Homo sapiens: one gene and its partners. The protein of the gene in region 2 purifies or fractionates together with the protein of the main gene of each other region. This does not show direct contact. Each region holds a gene or a part of one and is shown on either strand. Other genes may lie near its edges.

Region 1 (3,655 bases), on a different chromosome or scaffold from region 2:
ACCAGCGTTTCAGAATGGCAGATCTTAATAATCTGCTCCTGAACTTATTCAGCTCAGAAAATCATATAACAACCTGAGTACAGAATTTATTTTGGAAATTGTATGAAGAAAAACCCAACGGTGCCATTTGTGCTAATCCTTAAAGAAACAAAACCTGGCCGGGTGCAGTGGCTCATGCCTGTAATCCCAGCACTTTGGGAGGCCGAGGCAGGCGGATCACGAGGTCAGGAGGTGGAGACCATCCTGGTCAACACGGTGAAACCCCATCTCTACTGAAAATACAAAAATTAGCTGGGCATGGTGGCGTGCGCCTGTAGTCCCAGTTACTCAGGAGGCTGAGGCAGGAGAATCACTTGAACTCGGGAGGCGGTGGTTGCAGTGAGCCGAGATTGCGCCACTGCACTCCAGCCTGGGCGACAGAGTAAGACTCCATCTCAAAAAAAAAAAAAAAAGAAAGAAACAAAACCTTTTCAGGCAATCCTCACACTTTAAATGGCACTCCTCAGTTTACATAATAAATACACTATTTAAAAGTATTAGGACCCAGACCTCAAGACCCATAAGTATGTCTTCAAACACAATGAAATGTTTTATACAGTAACTTAAGACTCTGCTAAGTATTTACAATAGTATATGTAAGTGAAAAACTATAAACCATGTTTTTAAAAAACTTTTGCTTTAAAAAACAATTTCCAAAAAAATGGCTAACATCAAAAAACGTCGTAAATCAGTGCATCCTTTTAAGTCTTCCTTATGTTGTTTTTCCTAAGCTGCCTGTCTCTCGGTATGCACACCCATGCAAAGGAAAAGCCATGGCGCCAATGCTTTGCAGAGCGAGACCCTCTTAAGGAGAACAAGGACTCCGGGGGGCTGCGCTAGCCTCTGTCTGAGGAAAACCAGGGTAAACTGCGGAAGAAAGTGAGGATGTATGTCCAGACAACGTCCATAAAGGCCATCCTGAAATCTCCTTTTTAAATTTATGAACTTTAAGGACTAGAAACACAAGCAAACGATAGTAGAGATCAAGAGGAAAATTACATAGAGAAGTACATGCAATTACAAAGAGGTCAAAAAACAAAAATGAAAACAATCCAGTTGATAGGTACCTGATATGGAGACAGGCTGAGGTTAGCCCTTTCCATTGGAAATTAACTAAAAATATAATGTATTCATTTTCAGGCCTCATTCTACTTATCAAGTGCCTATCAAAAAGTACACAGTCATCCTTCATTCGGCACTGACCTCTGAAAGTCTTTCCACTAAACCAAAATAAAGGACTACTGTTCCCTTGGTATGCCCACACCACTTACCTGCTAGAGAGTTCTGGTACAGAACTAAACAGGTTACAGCAGAAACACAAAGAACAGGCTTTCAAAAAAACTTTTCACAGAGGTGTTTGGAAGCGCTATTTATAACTAGCCAGTATTCCATCTGGAAGGAGGTAAGAAAACATGGTTTTTTTAATACACTTAACATGCTTACAGTTTTAAAGCTCTGAAAATTAGCTGGATAATAACATTGTAAACTGTTCATTTTCTTAGCAAACTGGAACTTAAAAGAGTAATGATTTTCTATCTTCCTTTTTGCTTTTAAACTGAGGTGACTTTTCATCTCTGAAACTTTTGAGTGTTCACCTTCTCGAAGTCAAATTGATACTATATACCATTTTCTGGATTTTTTCTTCATTCTTGAGGATGTTGGCCTTCACAGCACAGATCTTGTCTTGCTGGTCTTTGATCAGCTGCTCCAGCTCCGCGAGCTCAGCCTTTAAGGGCTCCACGGCACAGTCTGTGATCCTGAGGGAGAACAAAACCAGCGGCTCATCACTCTCTCATCTCATTGTGTGTTGGCTTCTTAATTAAGACATTGAAAGACAACAGAAGTAAATTATTCGTTTCATCCAAAGAAAAGGATAATATTTATTTCTTATTTTCACAACCCCTGCTACAACCAAAAGTGAAGTCAAACATGAGATTTATAAAAGCAGCAGTTAATATTTCTTCAATGATAATCTTGAAGTCCTTAAATTACATACAGAACAACCTCTGGGACAAGGAGGTATGCAGCAAAGTCCCCATTGACTTTGGGGATCCCCCCTCCACTACCCCCCACCTATGTTCCTGCCGCAGGGCCTCTTCCCCATTACTGCCCCACTCCGCTACACCCCTACCTCTGCTCCTGCTGCAGGGCCCCCTCCCCATTACCCTCCTGCCCCACCCCAACCTGTTCCTGCTGCAGGGCCTCCTCCCCCATTACTCCCCCCACTCCGCTATCCCCTACCTGTGCTCCTGCTGCAGGGCCCCCTCCCCATTACTCCCTGCCTCTGCTACCCTTAACCTCTGCTCCTGCTGCAGGCCTCCTCCCATTATCCCCCTGCTCCCCCCCACCTCTCTCCTGCTGCAGGGCCCCTCCCCATTATCTTCCCCTCACCTCTGCTCCTGCTGCAGGGCCCCCTCCCCATTACTTCCCCTCACCTCTGCTCCTGCTGCAGGCCCCCCTCCCCATTACTTCCCCTCACCTCTGCTCCTGCTGCAGGGCCCCCTCCCCATTACTTCCCCTCACCTCTGCTCCTGCTGCAGGGCCCCCTCCCCATTACTACACCCCACCTCAGCTCCTGCTGCAGGGCCCCCTCCCCATTACTACACCCCACCTCTGCTCCTGCTGCAGGGCCCCCTCCCCATTACTACCCCTCACCTCTGCTCCTGCTGCAGGGCCCCCTCCCCATTACTACCCCTCACCTCTGCTCCTGCTGCAGGGCCCCCTCCCCATTACTACCCCCCACCTCTGCTCCTGCTGCAGGGCCCCCTCCCCATTACTACCCCCCACCTCTGCTCCTGCTGCAGGGCCCCCTCCCCATTACTACCCCCCACCTCTGCTCCTGCTGCAGGGCCTCGGCGTGCTGCCTGTTCTCGCTGTGCCACATCTGCAGCTCATTCTGCATGGCATCCACGTCTTCCTGGATGTAGTCCATGATCTTCCCCAGGGGAAGTGCGCTCTTGCACAGGGTCTGGATGGACGTGCGGAGCTTCTCTATCTCCTTGGAAACGATGTCCTTCTCCTTCTTCCATGCCGACTCAAAGAGAGATCGCTCCTACAGTCAGGGAGACATAGGAAGAGGAACACGCCTCCTCAGTCCAAAGGCAGAACAGGGCCGGTGCACTCAGCACACGGCCATGGGGCTGGGAGGAAAGGCGCAGGCAGAGACAGTGCTGGTTGTGGGACACTCACTCCCATGCAAAGGGAGAGCCATGCTGCCTAACAGAGTAACTCTGAAGTGCTGCACGCCATCAGAGGACACAGCACTGCCAGGGAGGGGCCGCTCCTTCCCTGCTCAATGGGGATGGGGGTCTGTCTTTACCTGGAAATCCATCTGAGGGCAAATCTCTATACAGGCAGATTTCAGTTCCCAACTAACAAGCAACTTTTGTAGCTATTGTTACAAGAGCTTAGTGACATGGAAGATTTTTCCCAAATGGACTGGCAGAATGAGGGCCTGACCCTACAGCTCTTCAAATGGCCCACCTTCCATCCCAAATGACTTCAAAACCCAGCTTGCCAGGGGGCAAGGGGAAAGAAACCCAAAGGAGAGGCAGAAACTGGTGCCATGGAAAGGAGGGCATGGAGAATGTGCAGGGCAGCCAGCGCCAGCAGCAGC
Region 2 (3,655 bases):
ATCTATAATTCAGCCTCTAGATCAGGGGCTCATAAGGACCTGGAAGGCTCATTACACGTGGTACTCTATGGAAAAAATGTCAGTGCTATGGAAGAGAACCCTGATAGAACATCATTAAAGTCTGGGAGAATTGCACCATTGAAGATGCCATCATTGTTATAGAAAAAGCTGCAAAAGCTATCAAGCACAAATTAATAAATTCCTGCTGGAGAAAATTGTGTCCAGATGTTGTGCATGACTTCATGGGATTTATGACAGAGCCAATTAAGGAAGTCATAAAAGAGATTGTGTATGTGGCAAAAAGGTGGGGGGTGAAAGGTTTCAAGATATGGATGTTGGAGAAATCCAAGAGCTGAGAGACACCACACCAGAGGAATTAACAGAAGACAAATTGGTAGAGATGAGTGCCTCTAAAGCAGTGCCAGACGATGAGGGAGAAGATGTAGAAGAGCCAGTGCCAGAAAACAAACTGACATTAGAACATCTGGCAGAAGAATTCCAGTTATTCAAGACTGCTTTTGACTTCATTTATGACATGGACCCTTCTATGATATGGGCACTGAAACCAAAGCAAATGGTGGAAGAAGGATTGGTACCACATAGAAACATTTTTAGAGCAATGAAAAAGCAAAAACGTCAGACAGAAATTACCACGTATTTCCATAAAATTACATCCACTATGCCTGCTTCTCCTGCCTCCCCTTCCACTTCCTCCACCTCTTCTGCTTCTGCCACCCCTGAGACGTCAATACCAACTCCTCTTCCTTCGTCTCCTCCTCAACCTACTCAATGTTAAGATGATGAGGATGAAGAATTTTATGGTAATCCACTTCCACTTAATGCATAGTAAATATATTTTGTTTTCCTTATAATTTTCTTAATACTATTTTCTTTCCTCTAGCTTACTTTATTGCAAGAATATAGTATATAATACACATAACATACAGAATATGTATCAATCGACTGTTTATGTTACCCATAAGGTTTCCAGTCAACAGTAGGTTATTAGTAGTTAAGCTTTTGGTGGAGTCAAAAGTCATATATGAATTTTTTACTACGTGGGGGGTTAGCACCCCTAACTCCAGCATTGGTAAGGGTCAACTCTATTTAGAAGTAATTCAGGTATTATAATTATAATGTTTATATTATAATACATAAATTATTAAGGATTAAATAATTTAATAATAATATAACAGTAACTATAATAAACACTATTAACTAAATTTTTATATGCCTCTCTCTATATATATAAAATATTTAATGTTCCTCTTTTAAAAAGGCACACAGCAGAAAAAAATTGTATACTGACCATTCAGCTCAGGGCAATTTTAATAGGAAATAACCTCATACATTTTAATTTTGGACCTACATGTTCAAGTTCTTCCTTGATTAACAGCAGAAAACAATATGTCCGGCAGAGGGCATCCCTCCATTGCTGCTCACAATGGAGGTTTGGAGATATAATTTTCTTTCACCTTTATGGGCAGGTCACCAGAATCTGGAACCCCTAGTCTATGTGAACGTCTACTGCCACTTTCCTAATGCCAACTGCCAGGATTCACAAGAATTTCCTGATCCTCAATTCCCTGTGATCCATCTGTCAGCTGTTAGACACTTGTGATACTGTATTTTAACTTCTATCAACCCCTTTCCAACTGCATGTGGCAATCTCCTTTAGGCTCTATTCTCTGGTCTTCTAACTTGATTTTTCTTCTCTGTGAAGAATCAAGTCTAGAATAATTTCCTAGCTCCTTTCTGGTGGTTGTGATTCTCCAGAGTGAAACAGGTTGTTACAGAATCTCGTCTTTAAAAAAACTACAATGACAAGAGAATGAAAAAACCAGCCACAGACTGGGATAAACTATTTGCAAAAGTAATACCTGATAAAAGACTGTTATTCAAAATACACAGAATACTTGAAACTCAACAATAAGAGAACAAACAACCCAATTAAAAAAATAAGCCAAAATCCTTAGCAGACACCTCCTCAAAGAAGATATACAGATGGCAAATAAGTATATATAAAGATGCTCCACCTCACATAATCTTGGGAAACGCAAACTAAAACTACAAAGTGATTCCACTACACACTTATTAGGATGACCAAAATCCAGAGAACAGATGCTGGTGAGAATGTGGACCAACAGAAACTCTCATTCATTGTTGGTAAGAATGCAAAATGGTACAGCTGCTTAGGAAGATTTGGTGGTTTCTTACAAAATAAAACATATCATTACCACATGATCCAGCAATCTTACTCCTTGGTATTTACCCAAATGAGTTGAAAGTGTAGTATGTTCATACAAAAACCTAAGCATGGATGCTTATAGCAGCCTTTTCCTAACTGCTAAAAGTTGGAAGCAACCAAGATGTTCTTCAGCAGGTGAATGGATAAATAAACCCTGGTATATCCAGATAATGAAGTATTATTTGACACTAAAAAGAAATGAGCTATCAAATCATTAAAAGACATGGCGCATATCACTAAGTAAAAGAAGCCAATCTGAAAAGGCTCCACACTATGTGATTCTAACTATATGACATTCTGGAAAAGGGAAAACTATGGAGGTAGTCAAAAGATTGGTGGTTGCCAGAGGTTATGAGGTAGGGAGAGATGAACAGATTACAGAGGATTTTGCTGGGAATGAAACTATACTATATGATGCCATAATATAGTAAGTACATGTCATTACACATTTGTTAAACTCCCTAAAATGTACAACACCGAGAATGAACTTTAATGTAAACTACGGCTTTTGGTAAATAATGATGTGCCAGTGTAGGCTAATCCGTTGTAACAATGTACCACTCTGATGTGGGATTTTGATGGTGGAAAAGGCTATGAGAGTGTGGGGATAGGGGATATATGAGAACTCTTTACTTCCTGGTAAATTTTGCTATGAGCCTAAAACTGCTCTAAAAATAACATCTATATAAAGACATTTTTTAAAAAATTAAAGGAATGAAAACCTTACAAAGTCCTTATTTCAGAAGACAAAAAAAAAAAGTCAATTCCTTCACCAGGACAACAGGATTTAACTACTGTAGACAGCCACTTACTCTCTTGAATAGAAAAATAATAAGAGGTGAGTGTCTAGGCTTTAAACTGCTTATTCATCATCTTGAACTAAGGAAAATAAGTCCTATGGAAAATGCATTTAAAGAAGGGGATGGATAGTGAAATACAAGGTCAGTAGGCAAACCCATTCCAATGTTTGGGTTGAAAGGGGCCATGAAAGACCTGTAACTGGGAGAACATGAGTGGGTTGTGGTTGCATGTCTGCATTAGGAACTATGTATTTCAGAGATAAGGAGTAAAGATCTGTTATCATCTGTTATCTGCTCCTGTATCTTAAGTCTAGTTGGTTTGGGAGCTTTTCTATATAATATAAATATATTATATAAGCCACACATATAAATTCTCCAGTAGGGACATTTAAAAACAAAAAAAGGTGAAAATAATGTGATAATAAATTTTACTTAACCCGATACATCCAAAATATTATCATTTCAACATGTAATCAATGTATAAAATTATTGATGGCATATTTCACTTTCTTTTTCCATATTAAATTTTTAAAATCTAATGTGTCTCTTACACTTGAGTATGTCTTAATTCATATGCTAAATGTTAATCAGAAATAATTAATCCTTA
Region 3 (3,655 bases), on a different chromosome or scaffold from region 2:
AGTGAAGCTCATTTGATGAAAACAGAACACAATATTATTTTTTAAACTGGCATAACAAAGTACATATTTAAATATTTCCCACTCTTTGAATCAATAGTTTGAATGTTAAAAACCTCTAAATTATAGTTAAAAAGCCTACCCTTCTCAGCTGATTTATAAGAAAAACAGTACGCTGATTATCAGACATTTTTGTACAATGAATCTCTCTTCAAACAAGCAACAAATAATTTGTTTTATATATTAATACTATTTTGTTAAGTAGGTTTCTTGAAGAGCTATTTTTCTCTTGCTCAGTTTTTCCCCTAAAATGAGCATGTACTTACCACCATCAGTCATGCTGCTGCCCTTTTCTTCCATTTCTTGTTTTACCTTTTCTAATTCTTCCATAACCTTTCATGAAAACAAGTTTTCATGAGCATTACATTTTAATAAACTTTCACAATTTTTGAATTATGTGTTAAGAAAATGTAATTTAGATATTAGCCACACATATAGAAAAATAAAGATATTAGGAATATTTTGGACATAATTCAAATAATATAAAGTATGCAGATATACAAAGCTTTTCAGTTTTTCAGAATGCTCCTAATGTTAAACTTCACCAAATGGCTGTCACATCTGTTTTCTCATGTTGCAATATACTAAACACAATCAAAGTTGTTTTAGTCACTAGACACTCAAACCTCGCAATTATCTCATCGCATATACTTTGAAATTCTCTAATAACTGGTTATTAATTAAAATAGTATAAACATCCTGAAGAGATTTTAGATTTCTAAAGCTTTTCTGGGTATCTTTCTTAATATTATAGTTCTATAAGACATTATGTCACTTTTTCCTCTATAGGACACTAAAAAATGTTTATATCATATGGCTATATATAAGAATATTCTTATTGCTTTATCCAAATCATGAACTCCGAACTCCAAGGAGGCATACTTTGCTGTCACACTTGTTCCTATCTGCACTCTATCTGGCGATTATACTACTATAACCTCTATTATTAGCAAAATTCCAAACCAGCATTAATATAAGTAGAAAATACTATCTTTAAGAAATTGAAAATTTTTTACATGATCTACAACTAAGCTATAATTATTGTGACTTAGTAGGCTTTATTTTTATCATACTGGTGAGTAAAACTTTCCCTGGGAATAAAGTGCTCATCCAAGTAAAGCAAATTAATTTTTTCAGGCATCTGAAATGTTACAACTGGGGATAACTATCTACTCCAAAAGAAGTAAATGGTTCCCTGGACTCCCTTCAAGTGTTAATTTACCTAACATAAGTGAACACTTTACTTCTACATACTGTTTTATTTGCTTAGAAGCACCACAGGATTACAGTCTAAATATTTCTGATGTTATATTTTTAGTGTTTTAAAATAACTTTATTCCTCAAATAATCTCTATAAAAGAGGTTTAATTCTTTCCTGTCAAAACAGTAAAGTTTGTTCCAATTATACTGGATTGTAACCAAAGATCATCTTGGATTTTAGTCCCAAATAAACTACTGACCTTTTTTCAAGGTTTTTTCCTCCTTTGGCTCTTCAGTGAAAAATGGGAATATATATCAGGTCCTACCTCTCTTGCAAGATCATAAAAATAAATGCAACTATTTATTTTTATGCAAATATTCTAAAGGAGGAGGTTATAAGCCACTCCCAATTGTGGACAGAGAAATACACCCAGGATCACACACAAATTATCAATAACAGTCACTAAAAATAAACCTTATATCTTGCAGACTAACGTTAAAATTTGTTATAGATTCCTTAAGTCAGTGCTTTACTATTCATCCCCATGTTAATAATAATTATTATGTAAAAAATGTTGAGGAAAATTATAAGTGTGCTAATATTATGAGCAGGTTTTATGTTGAATTTAATACAGAAACTTCAGGCATCCTGTGGAAACAAGAAATGTATCAATTATTGATTCAGTCATAGGAAAATTAGGGATTATCTCCTAAAGAAAATGATTTAAAGGCACAGGAAGCAACTGAAATTAGCAGTGTTAAACCATTTGTAGGTTCTCAATGGCTGGGGCCCAGCTGACAGGTGAGAAGCAGGGCAAGAGCATCAGTGTGTACCTCAGAGAGGAGTCTGGTTCTTTCCGTCACTCCTCCATTTCCCTGCTGGTATCGCTCCTTTGCCTGAGAGGAAAAACATTTTGTTTAATGGCAAATTCAAAGCAGCAGCAGATTAAATACGACTGACCTCTTTGTGTTTGCAATTTCTGCAGGTCATTTTATGACAACCCTGCTCCTTGTTTGTGAATACATTTGTGAAAGTGACATTTAACTGTAGCTGTTTTATGTCCCTAATAGGCAGCATGTATTTAACTAAGTACTACAAAATGATGAACTACCTTAACCTTCACAAACTGACTGTGTACCTCGCATGGGCATGGTTCACAATAAAAACTGTCCTTGGTCATTCCTAAACAGTTTAGGAGAGGGGCTCTTGGTCAATCTAATTTGCATGCTCCGCAGAGAAAGTCCGTTCTAAAACCAAAAATCAATCAAAGTAGAGCATGAAGCTCAATGATGAATAAGGATTAACATCCCGTAAGACAGTACACTCAACTGGAGTATGTCAGAAACTAACAATCAATTATATAATATTAATATTAGACAAATACATGGTGGCTTTGATCAGAGAGTTTTACATCATTTTGATAGTTAAAATATTCATAAGTAATTGTGTATATGAAGGAATAATACATTTAACAAATAACATCAAAAAGTGTAGATTTCTATTTAGTCTTTGAGGACTTCTGAAAGTATAGAAGTATCTCAAATTTACTTCTACTTTTTTCTCTTTCTCAACTTTGTCTGCTGAAGACAAAAAATATGCCTTCAACTGATGTTTGCAACTGTCCTTACTAGCCTTCTTTAACATCAGAAAATAGGGGGCACAAATCCCAAAGGAAAGCTTTTAGATCCCTACTGCTGGGACAAAGAACTGGTGCTTTCAAAGTCTAGTGATTTTATTTTTTGGTTAAAATTCTAAAACTTTGAAAGAATGAAAAATTTGTCTCATTTTATTAATTAAACTGCTTGTCTCTGAATGTATCTTGCTTTCACATTCCTTATTATGTGGTTGTAAGCCAGAATGGCAAGGACTGTCTTTTTCCTTTGACACATGTAAATGCATACTATTCTTCTTCCTCCTACGCCAATGGTAAATTAACAACAGACTTATAGAAGCAAAACCAGGTGTCCTGATACTCTGTTCCTGTTCTAAGCTATGTTCCCCCAACAGCATATGCCTTCATTTACTTAAATCAAATGAAGACGTGCATTTAAAGACTTCCAGGAGAAAACAACTTCTATTACATGTGAAATGGAAATAAGTTCACTCGGCTCTCTTGGCTTCCTAAAGTGGGCAGAAAATTGATGTTTTGCTGTTCATGAAAAGCATTTCATGATTCTCAAATGAACAGTATTGTGTCAAGTTTAGGGTTTAGGGTTGTTAACTTGAATAAATCCTTGGAAATCATTCTTAAATTACCTCACTCAGCTGGGCTTGAGCTGCACGATATTCTTGAACCAAATTCTCAAGCTGATTGTTGATGTACTTTTCTCGGCTGCTGATCTTTTCCAAAGTCCTAGTAATTTCATTATGGAGTTTGTCCAAAAATCCCTAGAAATT

The links.
Region 1: the proteins of NME8 (region 2) and TRAF3IP1 purify together in Homo sapiens (affinity purification with mass spectrometry, with the first as the bait; one large-scale study listed by BioGRID). This does not show direct contact.
Region 3: the proteins of NME8 (region 2) and IFT57 purify together in Homo sapiens (affinity purification with mass spectrometry, with the first as the bait; one large-scale study listed by BioGRID). This does not show direct contact.

Annotation. Positions count from the first base shown.
Region 1 is NC_000002.12:238,396,895-238,400,549, reverse strand, and holds part of TRAF3IP1 (TRAF3-interacting protein 1), read right to left. Parts: intron 3,092-3,655; coding exon 2,871-3,091; intron 1,797-2,870; coding exon 1,631-1,796; 3' UTR 1-1,630.
Region 2 is NC_000007.14:37,851,462-37,855,116, reverse strand, and holds part of NME8 (thioredoxin domain-containing protein 3), read right to left. Parts: intron 1-3,655. UniProt on the Homo sapiens protein: Probably required during the final stages of sperm tail maturation in the testis and/or epididymis, where extensive disulfide bonding of fibrous sheath (FS) proteins occurs.
Region 3 is NC_000003.12:108,163,340-108,166,994, forward strand, and holds part of IFT57 (intraflagellar transport protein 57 homolog), read right to left. Parts: intron 3,647-3,655; coding exon 3,515-3,646; intron 2,155-3,514; coding exon 2,092-2,154; intron 391-2,091; coding exon 324-390; intron 1-323. UniProt on the Homo sapiens protein: Required for the formation of cilia. Plays an indirect role in sonic hedgehog signaling, cilia being required for all activity of the hedgehog pathway.